Regions from separate parts of the Homo sapiens genome. Here region 2 is linked to region 1. The links come from fine-mapping of genetic effects on gene expression. A gene starts in region 1. The other region holds a variant in brackets. All regions are shown on one strand. Distances are between the middles of the regions.

Region 1 (8,000 bases):
GGGGGCTGGCCCAGGTAGGCCAAGGGGAGGCCCAGGCAGGAAGGGTGGCCCAGGCAGGCAGACCCACCAGGGGTCCCTGAAGGCCAGCCCTTGAGAAGGTGTCTAAGCCAGGGGGTGAGTGCCCAGGCCAGAGCCTAGCCCAGGGAGGCAGGGTTGGGTCCCGGTTGGGGGCTCTTGGAGCCTAGGGGCTGGCATCACTGGGGGCCTCCCCGAGCTGCTGCTGGAACTCCAGGCGTGTCTGCCGGTTGGACTCCAGCAGCTCCTGGAGGCGGGCGTGGAGGTGGTCATTCTTCTCCTCCAGGTGGTCCAGACAGGAGTTGATCTGGTCCAGCATGGAGTTGATGGCAGCGTATTCTGGGAGGAAGGCGAAAGACAGAGCCCAGATCCTGTGTCTCCTTGGGGCTAATGGACACCCTCCCTCCACTGTTTCCCAGCCTGCTTCCCAAAGGGCTTTGTGCAAGTCCCTACTGCTTCCTGAGCCTCAGTGTCACCGTCTGGAAAATGGGTGGAATACCAAAAGAGGAGTGGCTTTGAATGAATGACACTTTAGTACTGCATCCTTTTTTCTAGGGTTAGGGTGGTCATAGGGTGGCGAGCCAGTGTCCTACATGGGAAGTCCTGCCAGATGCCAAGTCTCTGCACTTCCTGCAGCAGCTGCTTAGTGGCCAGAGCCCACATTCCTGAGTTGGGCATTCAAGGCCTCTGTCCCCAGATGGGCCCTGTTCGCCAGCCCTTCTGTGGCTCCCTCAGGATAAAACACCCAGCGGAGTCTCCAGCCCCTGCCTCCTAGCTAGCCCTGCCTCCCTGCCTCTTCCTTTCCTCTCTCACACCTGCCTTTACCTACCTCAGGCCCTTTGAACATGCTGCTGTCTCTGCCTGGAAGGTGCTGGGTCCTCCCATCTTCCTTCCCTTCTCTCCTCCTGGATGAGTCCCACTCATCCTTCAAGTCTCAGTATGGATGTCACCACCGGGAGCCCACCCAATGCCCCAGACTGGATCAGGCCTCTATGCTGAGCCCCTAGCCCTCCTCAGCCCTCCACGACCTTCTCTCCAGGATTGACTGCTGTGCTTATCTGAGTGCTGTTATGTTTCCCCATGAAAGATGAACGGTCCTGTGTTCGCTGCTGGCTCCCTGGTGCCCTCACAGTTTTGCAATAAGCATTTGTTGAATGACTGAGTGAGTGAATGAATGAAGCCTCTGACTTTCCAGCCTCTCCGCCATTGCTCAACTATCCCTGCAACCTAGAATGCCTCAACCACAACAGCCCTTCAAGGACCAGCTCAAAATGCCTCCTCCAAGAAGCCTTCCCTGGTCTCCACTAGAAACCATCACTCCCTCCCCTCCACGGCCACTCCAGAGCTGCCCTGCTCAGCAACACAGTGTCCCTGAGGACTCAAGGTCTGGGCCTGTGCCCACTGCGGGACCCAGTTCTGAGCCAGCCCATGACTCACATACACTCAGCTGCCAGCTTGAGACCAAGGGGGAAGCAGCCGGTGGAGGAGCTGGAGGAGCGTATCTGGGTTATGGGTGCATATGTGCCTGTGTTCTAGGAAAGGGCACCCGTTGCCTAGAGCCAGCCACCCTCACAGACGACAGCGTCCTGGGAAATCGGCTGCATCTTAAAGTCCAACCCCCTCATGGTATATAGCTAGGGAAACCGAGGCCTCAGAAGGAAGGAACCTGCCCAGGGTCCTCCAGGTTGGTAACAGCCGAAACTCAGGATTGGACTTGGGGGTCAGGGTCACTTGGGTTTGAATTTCAGCTCTGCTTTACCCCAGCAAGTTGTACCTTTCTGGAAAAAAGGGAAAATAAAAAAGGTTGTGAGGATTCAAACACATCAAGAGTTCAGACAGTGGCCGGTGTGGTGGCTCACGCCTGTAATCCCAGTACTTTGGGAAGCCAAGGCGGGTGGATCACCTGAGGTCAGGAGTTCGAGACCAGCCTAGCCGACGTGGTGAAACATTGTCTCTACTAAAGATGTATAAAAATTAGCCAGGCGTGGTGGCAGGCGTCTGTAGTCCCAGCTACTCGGGAGGCTGAGGCATGAGAATCGCTTGAACCCAGAAGGCGGAGGTTGCAGTGAGCCAAGATCACGCCACTGTACTCCAGCCTGGGCAACAGAGCAAGACTCCGACTCAAAAAAAAAAAAAAAGCTCAGACAGGATCTGGCCACAGCAAGTACTTAGTGGATGGTCATTATTATCAATATTTCGAACTCTGTGTCCTGGGATACAGGCTAGGAGGAGGAATTGGGGAGGCAGGTGCCCCACACCCCTCCAGGCCAGGCTTTATCTGTGTCAAGGGTACTTCCCAGTTCCAAGCCTTTGCTTCTGCCTGGGACACCACCCTCCTCCCCACTGTTCTAAGTCCTGTCTGCCAACATCCACTTAATGTGACCTCCTGGGAAGCTCTTCCTGATGCTCCCAACAGCATTGCCCAATGCAGAGCTACCTGAAACTATTGTGATGGATGTACAACCCTGGGAATACACAAAAGCCTACTGAACTGTACAGTATGGGTAAGTTGTATAGCTCAATAAAGCTGTTACGCCAAACAAAACAAAGAGCATGCACCATACTTACACCACATTTACTAAATCCTCAGTGTATGTTAACATGCCAATCTTTACTATACCAAAGATAATAATGACGATAACCATTTACTGAACTCTTGCATGCTAGAACCTGCTAAGGATTTTCCTTTTTTTTGCATTTAATTCTGACACATCCCAGTGCAGCAGACACTAATCGTTATTCCTATTTTATAGAGGGGGAAACTGAGGCTGAAGAAGGTGAGAAGGGAGCCGATGGTTCTCTTCACACCCCACCCCTGCACTCGTAAGCACGCAAAAGGCTGCTCTGTAAGCTGCTGACATTTGGCAAGGCTGTGAGGCTACACCAGCAAAGCCGGGTGGCTGGGGATGCTGAATCGGCAGAGCGACGCCCCCGCGTCCCCAACTCCACGTCCCGGCCCGGCCCCTCCGCTAAGCTCAACCCTGCCTCCCTCAGGTGCCTCGGTCTCCCCCAGGACTGAAGGAAGTGGTGGAGCAAGGCCCACAAGGGCGAGTGTCCCCGAAGCTGCCTTAGTTTCCCCATCTGTAAAACGGGACTGGTGACCTGCAGCTCTCACGGGGCTGGGAACCGGCTCGCGGGTGCTCGCCCTGCATCCGAGACAGCACCTACAACTCCGGACCCGCTCGGGGCGGAATGGGTGGGCTCTTTGTTCCCTTCCGAGACCCCATCTCGATTCCCCTTCCCGGGAGGGCAGCCCTGAAAATGCAAGGTTGCTCCAGCAGCCCCCTCGGGTCACCTGCTTCCCCGAAGCCGTCCTCCTCGCCTTCCGCTCCCGCCTCCACCGGCATCCCCAGGTCTCCGTTGGGGCCCGACATTGCGGGCTCGGGCGCCCGAAGGGCCGCGCGACGATGGAACGCGGCGACCGTCGCGCCGAAAGCCGGCGCCGGATGGAAGGTGGAGGCGGCGGATAGAACACGGGCCGGAAGGGTAGAACGCGGCAGCAGATCTCCGCCCAGAGGCCGGTGCCCCGCCCCTGAAGCCGGAATCCCGCAGCTCCCGCTCCGCCCCGCCCCGCCCCCAGCCGGAACTCCGCCCCCGCCGCTGTTCTGGCCCCGCCCTACCTCCAGACTCCACCCCCACCACCGGACTCCCGCCTCCACCTCCCTCACAGTCGAACTCCGCCCATTCCGCCCCCGGCCTCGCCCCTCTCCCGGGCGCTGGGCGGGGCCACCACGGGGCTGCCCCTGGAAAAGCCCAGGAGTAGGGAGGTCCGGGAGGAGCGGCGGGAGACCGTCCAAGCCCATCTGCTGCTTCGGCCCCTCCGCGTTGGCGAAATCGAAAACGGGGTTTCCTTGTTATTTTTTGAGATAGGGCCTGGCCCTGTCTTCCAGGCTGGAATGCAGTGGGGTGATCTCTGCCTCCCAGCCTGAAGCGATCCTCCCACCTGAGCCTCCAGAGTAGCTGGGACTACAGACGGCTGCACCACGCTGGCTATTGTATTTTTTGGAGACGGGGGGGGGGGGGGGGGAGGGGTTTCGCCATGTTACCCAGGCTGCTCTCGAACTCCTGAGCTCGAGCCATCCACCCGCCTCAGCCTACCAAAATGCTGGGATTACAGGCACGAGCTACTGGGCCCAGCCTTGGAAACGGGGTTTCCACACCTCTTGTGGCTTCCGGATATACCTCTTGTGGCTTCCGGATATTCTTCTTCACAGCCTCGCTGAGAGTCACGAAGGGTCTCCTTCCTCTTTGCCTCTCTGCCTGCACCCCAGTGGAGAGGACCCAACACCCCTACCCCTGGATCTGGGCCTTCCTGGTCTTCAGCGCTTCTCTTAGGGCTCATTGGTTACAACCTGTGGGTGGGAATCAGGCTGGACTCCAGCTCTGGACAAGAGAAACAGGAACATTAGCTAGGCGGGGTGGCTCCCACCTGTAATCCCAGCGCTACGGGAGGCCGAGGTGGGAGGATTGCTTGAGCCTAGGAGTTGGAGACCAGCCTGGGAAACATAGTGAGACACCCTACTCCCACCCCCGCCCACTCAGCCCCCCCCACCCCCGTCTCTACAGAAAGCACAAAAAAAATTAGCCAGACCTGGTGGCATGCACCTTAGTTGCAGCTGTTTGGGAGGCTAAGGCAGGAGGATCACTTGGGCCCAGGAGTTCGAGGCTATAGTGAGCTATGACTGCACCACTGCACTACAGCCTGGGCAACAGAGTGAGACCCTGTCTTTAAAAAAAAAAAAATTAATTAATTAATTAAAAATAAAATGTTTAATTAGCCAGGTGTGGTGGTACACGCCTGTAGTCCCAGCTACTCAGGAGGCTGAGGCAGGAGAATCACTTGAACTGGGAGGCAGAAGTTGCAGTGAGCAGAGATCGTGCCCTTGCACTCCAGCCTAAGCAACAGAGCAAGACCCTGTCTCAAAAAAAAGAAAAAAAAAGGCCAGGCCTGGTGGCTCACGCCTGTAATCCCAGCACTTTGGGAGGCCGAGGCGGGCAGATCACGAGGTCAGGAGTTTGAGACCAGCCTGACCAACATGGTGAAAACCCGTCTCTACTAAAAATACAAAAATAAGCCGGGCGTGGTGGCGTGTGCCTGTAATCCCAGCTGCTCAGGAGGCTGAGGTGGGAGAATCACTTGAACCCACGAGGCAGAGGTTGCAGTGAGCTGAGACTGCACCACTGCACTCCAGCCTGGACAACAGAGCGAAAATCCGTCTCAAAAAATAAATAAATAAAAAGTTTGGCCTGGAGCAGACCTACCTTTGTTTGTTTGTTTGTTTTGAGACAGAGTCTTGCTCTGTTGCCCAGGCTGGAGTGCAGTGGCATGATCTCAGCTCACTGCAACCTCTCCTTCCCGGGTTCAAGCAATTCTTGTGCCTCGGCCTCCTGAGTAGCTGGGATTACATGTGCCTGCCACCACACCCAGCTAATTTTTTTTATTTTTAGTAGAGACGAGGTTTCACCATGTTGCCCTGGCTGGTCTCAAACTCCTGACTTCAGGTGATCCACCTGCCTTGGCTTCCCAAAATGCTGGGATTACAGGTGTGAGCCACCATGCCCGGCCTGGACCTACCTCTTTTTTTTTTTTTTTTTGAGACGGAGTCTTGCCCTGTCGCCAGGCTGGAGTGCAATGGCGCAATCTTGGCTCACTGCAACCTCCACATCCTGGGTTCAAGTGATTCTCCTGCCTCAGCCTCCTGAGTAGCTGGGACTACAGGCACACGCCACCACGCCCAGCTAATTTTTGTATTTTTAGTAGAGACGGGGTTTCACAATGTTTGTCAGAATGGTCTCGATCTCTTGACCTCGTGATCAGCCCACCTCGGCCTCCCAAAGTGCTGGGATTATAGGCATAAGCCACCGCGCCTGGTCCCTGGAGCTACCTTTTTAAGTTGAACTTTGAGAAGCCAAAGAGAAAAAAAGATTAAATAAAAATTTAATTTTTTTTTTTTTTTGAGACAGAGTCTCACTCTGTCACCCAGGCTGGAGTGCAGTGGTGCGACCTTGGCCCACTGCAACCTCTGCCTCCCGGGTTCAAGCAATTCTCCTGCCTCAGCCTCCCGAGTAGCTGGGATTACAGGTGTATGCCACCATGCCCGGCTAATTTTTGTATTTTTAGTTTCACCATATTGGCCAGGCTCGTCTCGAACTCCTGACCTCAGGTGATCCACCCGCCTTGGCCCCCCAGAGTGCTGGGATTACAAGTGTAAACCACCATTCCTGGCTAGATTTAATTTTTTAAAAAATAAAGAGAAGTAGGAATAGTTCATTTTAGGGAGAGCCCCTTAACTGGGACAGGGGCAGGACAGGGGTGAGGCTTCCCTTAGTTCAAGCTCACCTCAAACCCACCCAGGACTGTGTGTCACATTCTCCAATAAAGGAAAGGTTTGCTGCCCCCGCCTGTGAGTGCTGCAGTGGAGGGTAGAGGGCCGTGGGCAGAGTGCTTCATGGACTGCTCATCAAGAAAGGCTTCATGACAATCGGCCCAGCTGCTGTCATCCCACATTCTACTTCCAGCTAGGAGAAGGCGGCTTGCCCACAGTCACCCAGCCGGCAAGTGTCACCCCTGGGTTGGACCCAGAGCTATGATCCTGCCCAGGGGTCCAGCTGAGAATCAGGCCCACGTTCTAGGCAGAGGGGCTCACCTACTGGGACTCCAGTAGCTGTAGTGCATGGAGGCATCATGGCTGCAGCAGCCTGGACCTGGTCTCACACTGGCTGTCCCTGTGGGCAGGCCATCCTCAATGCCAGGTCAGGCCCAAGCATGTATCCCAGACAATGACAATGGGGTGGAATCCTCTCTTGTCCCAGAAGCCACCCTCACTGTTCTACCTGAGGAAGGCAGGGGCATGGTGGAATCTGAAGCCTGCTGTGAGGGTCTCCAGCGACTTGCACATGGTCAGCCCTGCCTTCTCCTCCCTGAACTAGATTGAGCGAGAGCAAGAAGGACATTGAACCAGCACCCAAAGAATTTTGGGGAACGGCCTCTCATCCAGGTCAGGCTCACCTCCTTTTTAAAATTTAATTAATTAATTAATTAATTTTTTTTTAGAGACAGAGTCTTACTGTGTGGCCCAGGCTGTAGTGCAGTGGCACAATCATAGTTCACTGCAGCCTCAAACTCCCCACCTCAGCCTCTGGATTAGCTGAGACTACAGGTGCACCACCACCACACCCAGCTAATATTTTTATTTTTGTAGAGAGAGGGTTTCACCATCTTGCCCAGGCTGGTCTCAAACTCCTGGGCTCAAGTGATCCTCCCACCTCAGCCTCCAGATTAGCTGAGATTACAGGCATACCACCACCACGCCTGGCTAATATTTTCAATTTTGTAGAGACAGAGTTTCACCATCTTGCCCAGGCTGGTCTCAAACTCCTGGACTCAAGTGATCTTCCCACCTCAGCCTCCCCACGTGCTCAGATTACAGATGTGAGCCATGGTGCCCAGCCTAGCCTGCCCTCCTTGGCTGAGAGTGAGGCCCTCAGCAGAGAAAGAGATTTGCTGATGCTCCACTGCCTTTGAAGGAGGAAGGAGCCACAGGCTAAGGGGTGCAAGGAAGATAGCATGAGAAGCTGGGAAGGGCAGGGAGCAGCTTCCCTGAGAGCCTCTGGAGGAAGCACAGCTCTGTGGACCCTCATTTCTGCCCAGTCAAACTGATTTCAAACTTCTGACCTCCAGAATATATAGGTGTTGTTTTAAACCCACAGTTTGTGGTGATTTATGATAGTGACACAGGATTTTTCTTGGTCATTCTGCCGGCCGGAGACCCCCAGCCAGTGACACCCCTGTCCAGGAAGATGTCAGCCCTGTTACCTGCTCTGGCCTGTGGCTCCAGAGCTGGCTCAACCCTAGCACTGTTACAGCTTTCTTTGTACCCTCACTTGGTGGGTCTCAAGCTCTTGTCCGGAGTCCAAGAAGAATGAGGATACGCTGACAATCAAAGGGTGAGGAGGACAGAGAATAATTTTGTTGAGTGATGGAA
Region 2 (8,000 bases), 54 kb after region 1:
AAGGTGTTTGGCTTAAGTTCGTAGAAGAAAGGAGTTGCCATTTGCTGGCATGAGGAAAATGAAGAAGCAGATTTTGGGAGGAAAATGAAGGGTTCGGCTTCTGACATGCTGAACTCGAGGTGCTGTTTAAGTGGATGTGGATTTCACAGTTGTACTGATGAAGCTGGAATTCGTTCAAGTATCAAAGGAGTGTCATCTAAATATAGATATTGAAGGTAATCCTCAGTCAGATGAGGTTACTGAGAGGGTGTGAGGAGGCAGGAGCGGGGTGAGGCTGGGAGGGGCAGCTGGGGGGAGGGGAGAGAAGCCCAGCGACGTCCTCGGTGTCTGTGAAGATGGCACTTCCGGCGGAGGGAGAGATCCCCCGCACCCTGCCTGAGACAGGCTGAGGAACGACCCTACACAGCAACTCAGGGCACCCCAAATCGAACACGCAACCATTAAAGAGGGAGCGCCTCTAAGAAGCCGAAAGGGGGCACCACCAGGCTCCAGAGGGGAAAACAGGGCGCATTTTCTAACATGTCAGCACCCCCAGACCACCCAGGCCCCCGTCAGAAAAATACTGGCTCCATGATCAGCTTTGAAACAACTTTATTAGAAGGCTGCTTTAAATGACAACTTCTAACGTCCAATTCTTTCTTAATTTGCTTTTTGACGACTCCAGTTATATGTTCATATATAACAATTTTTGCATTGATCTTTGCATCCTATTGAAGATTTCCTCATCAGGTCATTCTGGTGGAATGGAAGTGCAACCGTGAGGTCGCCAGTTGGCCGGCATTGTTAAGCAAGGGCAGCAGAAGGCTGGGAGGGACGGAGCCAGTCCCCCACCCTCTCCTCCAGCCCCCGCCCACCACAAATTCACAGTGAGAGGCACCTCACTGCCTTGACATTCAGAAAAGAGTGAAATAAAGAAACCCTCGCAGCGCAGGAAATAACTGGATTCCACCTTCAAGGTTATTGAGGTTCCTCCCTCTCTCTCCACGCCCCCAGTCAAACCCTGAAATCCTAAGGCTGGGGGCAAGCCCTTCCCCAACCTGCCAAAGGAAAGGAGCCAGGGCTGCTGCCTTCTGGCCGCTTTTCTGCCTCCAGTCCCAAAAGGAATTTCTCTGGACAGATGTGACTGCAGCGGCCCAAGGCCCCCCTTCTCCTCCTCCTCCCATCCCACTGGGCGGGCTTGGGAAGGTACAATCAACCATGAACATAAATATGAATAAAAAATGAACTTGAAAATGACAAGCTATTAATTAAACAAATCTATAAAAATAGTTAGGACATAACTCTGTTCAAATAAATACAAAATAAATAGGTTCCAAGCAGTGACACAAGTGGAATGTGGGGCTGGTCCCGCTGCGCCCCTGCTGGGGTTGGACAGGAACCCCCAGGGCGTCAGAACAGACTCTGAGCAGTCAGCCAAGCTCCTGCTCCCTCGTCTTCCTCTGGAAGCACAGAAGTCGCTCATTTGTCCGGCTTGTCCTTCTGGACAAAACCCTTTTCCCAACAGTCCATAATTAAGGCCTCCAACACCTTTTCCTTCCCTCCCCAGAACACACAAACGCTCTGCCCTTCGCCCTCAAACATGGTGCTCCACTGCCCTCATGCCACAGTGGGGACAGTGAGTTTGGTTCTGAGGTGGGGCCCATCCTGACAGGGTCCAGGCCAGCTCAGAGCACCATGAGCCCCAGCACTTGCCTTCTGTGCAGCCAGGCCAGGCAGCCCGAGCCCCCTGCACTCCCAAGCATGCCCGAGAGCCCCAGCCATCAGCAGGGCTCAGATGCCAGTGACCACAAGGCCAGATCCTTTCCTCTTCCTTCACAGCCAAGTTGGCGTCAATGCTGTAGGTTGGGAAGTCAGGCCTGGGAGGCCACGTGACCTCACCTTTCATCATGGATTATGGGATTGGACGAGGGGGTGGGATGTGGGCTGTAGCCCTCCTCCCACCTTACCTCAGCAGACAGGCAGGCAGCAAGAGGGCACAGGGAGATGCACGGCAGACCAGAGGGCAGGGGCCGTGGCCAACAGCTGGCTGCAAGGGTGAAATGGAAGAACTAAGCCGGCCTCCAGGCTCCAAGCTCGCTATTGGCAGGCACTGCAGAAAATGTCCTGTCCTTACACATGTGAGCCCGGAGCCTGCTGACCCTGGACCCTAAGGAATGCCTGTGGTCTTCGCTGGAACCAACAGGAGGGTCTGCTGGGGTCAGCAGGACAAGCCCTGGGCCTGCCAGCTCTCCCCACCCTCCCTGCGGGTGCGTCTAGGGTTTTCACAGCTTGGCTCGAGACAGCTTAGTGTTGGCACATTCACAGAATGAGATGGCTGCACACCCCAGGCTGCGGCCCAGGATCAGCGAGTCCACTGCCGGGCGGCCCTCCCCCCGTCACCGCGACTGCACGCCCAGGGTGATCTTCAGGTTCTCGTAGACCACGTAGCTGATGCTCACAGCTGGGATGACCTTCATGAAGTTGGGGGCCAGCCCCCTGTACAGCCCGAAGGCCCCCTCGGTCCGCAGGATATGTTTGAAGAGGCTGCTCATGGTCACCTCCGGAGCGCCCTCAATAGAGGCTGCAGGATGGAGGCCACCAGTCAGATGCTTCTGTCCGCTCCCCCCGACCTCCCAGGGGACTGTCCAGGGCCAGCCTTACCTTGCGCCTGCATCCGGGTCCTGACTAGGGCCAGGGGGTAGCTGGCCAGCTGGCCACAGGTACTGGACATGGTGCCACAGGCCAGGAGCACAAACACGCCGGGGTCCGCGCTGTTCACTGCATAGTGCTGCAGCCAGGCATTCTTGAGCGTCTAGAAGGAGAAGGGAGCATGGGATAAGCCCTAGGAAGGGCTAGTGAGGCAGCAAGAGACGGGGCTGTTACTGGGTCCTCAGGCCACTGGAACCCGACTGCCGCGCCTGGGGCCTGGCTGGGCTCCTAGCCTGGCTGCCCTGTTTCTGCTGTCACTGGGAATTCCGGGACAAGGTAGAGGGAACACCTCCTTCCCCACACAGAAGGGCTGACTTCTGGGGTCTGTCTAGAGTGTGCTGGGGCCTGTGAGCTCCTGGGGGCCACCCTGCTCTGGGGATCTGCCTGCTGAGCCTCTGGGGATGCAGAGCCTGGGTGCAGGGCTCACAGGAGCTGCTGGGGTCTGCCAGGGGCAGGCAGGGTGAAGGAAAGCTGCAGTAAACAGAAGAGCAGGAAGGAGGCGCAGTCTTTGATGCAGTTTCCTGCACTAACCACGCGTCCGTCAAGGAGGGAGACAGCAGGTGGAGGTGTGCTGGGAGGAGGTTTCTAAATCTGTCCAGCTTGGGCCTCACCTCGTAGACTGCAAGGTCGATGCCGGCATAGGGGATGATGCCCAGCATGTTGGGGACATAGCCTTTGTAGAAGGCGGCCACCCCCTCTCTGGCCAGGATCCTCCTGGCGCAGTCCAGCATTCCTGAGTACTGGCCTGTCTTCCGCAGCGCCATCCGGGTCTTCAGGACCTGCACAACAGGAGCAGCGGGACGCGTGAGCACAGCCTGTGCCTCTCCCCAGTCCTGTGCCCACTGCCCGCCCCAGGACCCAGGCGGCCCCTCACCTCCATTGGGTAGATGCTGCTCTGGGCGATGGCCCCTGCCAAGGACCCTGCCACAAGCCTCTCGTGAATCCTCAGAGTCTCCTGGTCACTACCAACAAGGCGCTTGATCTAGAACCAGGAACAAACAAACCACCTGATATACCCAGAGGTTGGGGCACCTGCTGCTGCCCCTCCCTTCCAGGAGTCCCCGGCACATTTTATGCTACCCAGAAATGTAAGGAACTCGTGGTGAGCCTGGGCCTCCTGCCTCGCCCTGCTGTCCCTGGGGTACCACGGCTGGCTCCAAGTGTCAGGGAGCTCAGCCCAGGGAAAGCCAGCAAGTCCAGGCAGTGAGTAGCCACTGGCCGGTGACCCTCCTGAGGAGCTGGGTCCTCACCTGCTCATAGGCCATGAATTTGATGGCTGATTCGGGGGCAATTTTGAGGACGTTGATGCCATTGCCCCGCCAGAGTGACCTGGCCCCTCCTTCTCGAATCATCTGAGTGAAGCCACCAACGATGCCCATGTTGTTGCTGCGGGAGGCATGGACCTGGGAGGGAGGACCGAACAGTCAGACGGACCCGGGGGGCCACAGGCTGCCTCACCCGGCCAAGAGCCTCTGCTGGCCAACCGGCTGCGGCCAAAGGGAAGGCCCTTTCTTCCGTGCATTTTGAAGACAAGCTTGGAATCATGAGCCCAAAGTAACCCAACACGGCTAAGTGAGGCTCAGCTCCATCGTACTGGGTATCTGCTGGTTGCCAGCCTTGTCCTGAACATCTCCATAAAGATGACTTAAAAAAAAAATCAAGGCTGGGCGC[G/A]GTGGCTCATGCCTGTAATCCCAGCACTTTGGGAGGCTGAGGCAGGTGGATCACTTGAGTTCAGGAGTTCGAGACCAGCCCAGCCAACATGGTGAAACCCCGTCTCTACTAAAAATACAAAAGTTAGCCGGGCGTGGTGGCAGGCACCAGTAATCCCAGCTACTTGGGAGGCTAAGGCAGGAGAATCGCTTGAATCCGGGAGGTGGAGGTTGCAGTGAGCCAAGATCGCGCCCCTGTACTCCAGCCTGGGCGACAGAGCGAGACTCTATTTTAGAAAAAAAAAAAAAAAAAAAAAAAAAAAAGGCCGGGAGTGTTGGCTCACATCTGTAATCCCAGCACTTTGGGAGGCCGAGGTGGGCAGATCACATGAGGTGAGGAGTGTGAGACCAGCCTGGCCAACATGATGAAACCTCGTCTCTACTAAAAATACAAAAATTAGCCTGGGGTGATAGCGCATGCCTGTAATAATCCCAGCTACTAGGGAGGCTGAGGCTGTAGAATTGCTTGAACCCAGTGAGGGAGGTTGCAGTGAGCTGAGATCATACCACTGTACTCTAGCCTGGGTGACAGAGCGAGACTGTCTCAAAAAATATAATAATAATAATAATAATAATAATAATAATAATAATTTTTAAAAATCAAAGTTTTTCATTATTAAAAAAACTTAAGACATATTAAAAAATAGAATGAATGCCCACTCAGCTTAGACAATGATCAAACCACAGCCAACCTCTCTCTCCTGCTGCCCCACCCATGCTGGTTTAAAGGCACACGCCAGGCATTTGATTTCACCCAAGGCCTGCTTTCAATCTCTACAACATTCCTGATAATTCTGCTAAAAAAACAAAAGGATGAGGCAGTTGTTCAAGCCCCTATTTTCACAGAGGAGGGGAAGTCCTGGGAGGGAAAGGGGTTTGCTCAAGGCCACAAGAGGGAGGGAGGCAGCTGTGGTGGTGCCCTGGGCAGAGTCCAAGCCCGAGGCATTCTGCCCTGAACCACCTGCTTCCTTTGTCTCTGTGCAACACAGGGAGGCCCAGCAAGGCAGACTGGGGAGAGAAAGGAGGCAGCTCTTCCAAGCCGGGCTCCTGGCACAAGAAGTACTAGGTACGGGCAAGGGGACAAGTGGTGGCCAGTCACCATTCAGACATCAAAGTCCACCAGTGTCGTTGTGTGGGTCAGTTTCACAATTCTGCCTTGACATCAGCCCAGCTTATCTCTGCTGTGTGGACATGGATTTGCGTACCTGGCCAAGGTAATGGCGTGGCTTCCCATTGGCATCTGGGTCAGGTGAGGCTCTGCTGGCCCCAGTGTGGGGTAACGTACACAAAACGTACTTACAGAAATTGGTTCCTGCCTCACCCCAGTCTCGCTAGCTTCACCTGTCCACATTATGCCCCTGTAATGTGATGCCTCAGATAAAATTAGATCCGCTCTGCACAAAATGTCACCTACAGTGACATTTTGGTACCCCCTGTCTGAGCAATAATTCTAGTCTAATTTATTGGGTTAGAAAAGTTTGGGCCCAAAGCAGGCACCAGCCAGAGAAAGGGAAAACTAGCCAAGCAGCATCCCCCAGGTGGAAACTGGCCCCCCAGGGGTCTGGGGCCTTTTCCCTACATACCTGCATGAGCACCTTGAGCCTGTCCAGGGGGGCCGTGCAGGTTCTGGATACGGCCCCTGCCCCACCTCCTGCCACCAGGTGTCTCCACCACATCCCCGTCTGCCTCTCCTCCACTGTGAACTCATCCGGGACCGTTAGATTCTCACCCACATCAAAGATCTGTGAGGAAAGATGGCACAAGCCTGACTCAGGACCCTTGGGGCAAGGCTGCTGGCACCTGTCGCCGTCTACCCTCTAGCACGGCTCCAGGCCAGGGACCACAGGACAGGGAGAAGGCCAAGGACTCTGGGTGGGAAGCGGGCTGGGGTCTTTCCCTTCACTCTGAAGGTAGCAGAGCTCTCACCCCTGCTGGGGTCCTGGAGAGGCACAGGTATAGAACCTCAGCTGAACACAGCCGGGAGGTGCCGGTTAGAAAACCATTCACCGGCCCTTTCCAATGCTGCCAGGGAGCTACTGCAAGAACAGCTCACAGGCCTGTGTGAGATTGCCAGGCTGGCTGCGCTGAAGGGATCAGGCCGGGGTGAGAGCCGTCTGAGATCTCACGTGTAACCAGATCACGCTGGCAGAACATTATGCAACGCCTCAGCAAACACGAGGGCTCGCTGCCTGCGTAACCTTTCTCCGGGTGACATCCGGGCTGATCAGAGCCACCTCTGCTCTGATCCCAGGGCTAAAGGCCAGAGCTCTGGGCCAGCTACTCCCACCCCTGGAGCTGTCCATTTAATCTCACCTAACAAGCCCTGGCCTGGCACTGCGAGAGGCAGATGAGGAGCGCCTCTGGCCTCCCCTCCTGGAGCGGATGGTCCAGAGGGACAGGACTGCACACCAGGACTCAGAGAGGGACACGCCAAGCATGAAGGGCTCGGGGCAGAGACCAGCACAGACTCACATTTCTGAACATGAAACCACAGTGGACGGGGGCGAGAGGGCAGCAAATGTGTGACCGTGGGGACACCTCACAGCTCTGCCTAGGTGTTCTCTGTAGAGTAGCTTCTGCCCCAGCCCCCTCCCACCGGGGGGAAGGCTCATACCAGCTTTGGGAGAACAGACAGCATCATGGGAAGGGGTATTTGAAGTGGCCCATGAGGAGCAGGGAGCAGGGAGCATGTGGGGACGGAGGGTGTTCCTGGAAGAGGAAGCCTGTGTGTGTGAACGATGGGGCTGTTCAGGTTGGCTGGAGTGCCAGAACATGGGGAACATGCGGACAGCTCTACTGGGCTGGCAGAAGAGGGGACAGTCTCCTGTGGAAGAGGAGGTGGCTGGAAAGCCCCAGCTGCACTCTGGGATGGGGACGACTGGGTGACTCTGGGCTAAGGGTCCCTGGGAGCAGATGAGGGCCCTGGGCACGTGGGGCTCACCGTGGAATGCTTCCAGTAGAGGATGATCTCGGGGATGTTTTCCACGGGGTGGAGGAGGTGGTAGTCTCTCCACTCGTTCCAGTCAATGGTCATCGTGCCGTTTTTATCCATGCTGCAAGACAGAGGCGAGGCTGCCCACGTGCCCACATGCCCATCCGCCAGCTGCATCCCCCCACCTCCCAGTGAGCCAAGGGCAGGCATTCGGATGCCCAGAAACCACACGAGGTGCCTCTGCCCCCAGGAGAAAGAGCAGGGGGCTCCACACCCCACTTAGCACAACAATGGCAATATAATGGCCCACAAGAATCCCGCTCTGATCAGGCATGGAAGTCAAGGGAGGCAGTCATGAGCGACATGGATACTTACTAGGTGACAGGGCCCCAGAAATGGCCCGTTCGTATTCTGACAGACAGACAAAGGATGCGGAGGAGAGAGCAGAAACAACACGCATAAGTGCTCGGAGCCATGTTAGTGAAGCAAGCACACACCCAGAGACAGGGGCACAGCACGGCACGAGACGAGCCCGCCACAGCAGCTGAGCCCAGGGCTGCTGTCCCCGAGGACCAGCCAGTGTTCAGACCGCAGGGTTTCCGGAAGGTCCAGCCAGGACAGACGGCAACTCCCAGGGCTGTTCCATGAGATTTCCTGGCAGCCGCCCCGCA

The links. PIP is the estimated chance that this variant, and not a neighbour inherited with it, causes the effect.
Region 2: its variant is fine-mapped to the expression of BBLN in fibroblasts (GTEx, PIP above 0.99).

The regions. Positions count from the first base shown.
Region 1 is chr9:128,155,797-128,163,796 of GRCh38, reverse strand. It overlaps BBLN (bublin coiled coil protein), which reads right to left and starts at 3,532. Exons shown (of 2, transcript NM_024112.4): 1 at 3,311-3,532; 2 at 1-354. The coding sequence starts at 3,389. The coding sequence ends at 182. RefSeq lists silencers at 3,283-3,372, 3,583-3,792, 5,812-6,007, 7,281-7,481 and enhancers at 2,724-3,677, 3,678-4,631.
Region 2 is chr9:128,101,820-128,109,819 of GRCh38, reverse strand. SLC25A25 (solute carrier family 25 member 25) reads right to left here. Exons shown (of 11, transcript NM_001330988.2): 4 at 7,705-7,740; 5 at 7,339-7,450; 6 at 5,981-6,139; 7 at 3,939-4,091; 8 at 3,563-3,670; 9 at 3,300-3,467; 10 at 2,641-2,791; 11 at 575-2,560. The coding sequence ends at 2,376. Among named protein-coding and RNA genes, the nearest start is that of SLC25A25-AS1, 13 kb to the left of the region's middle. The variant G/A (reference allele first, on the strand shown) is at 4,360.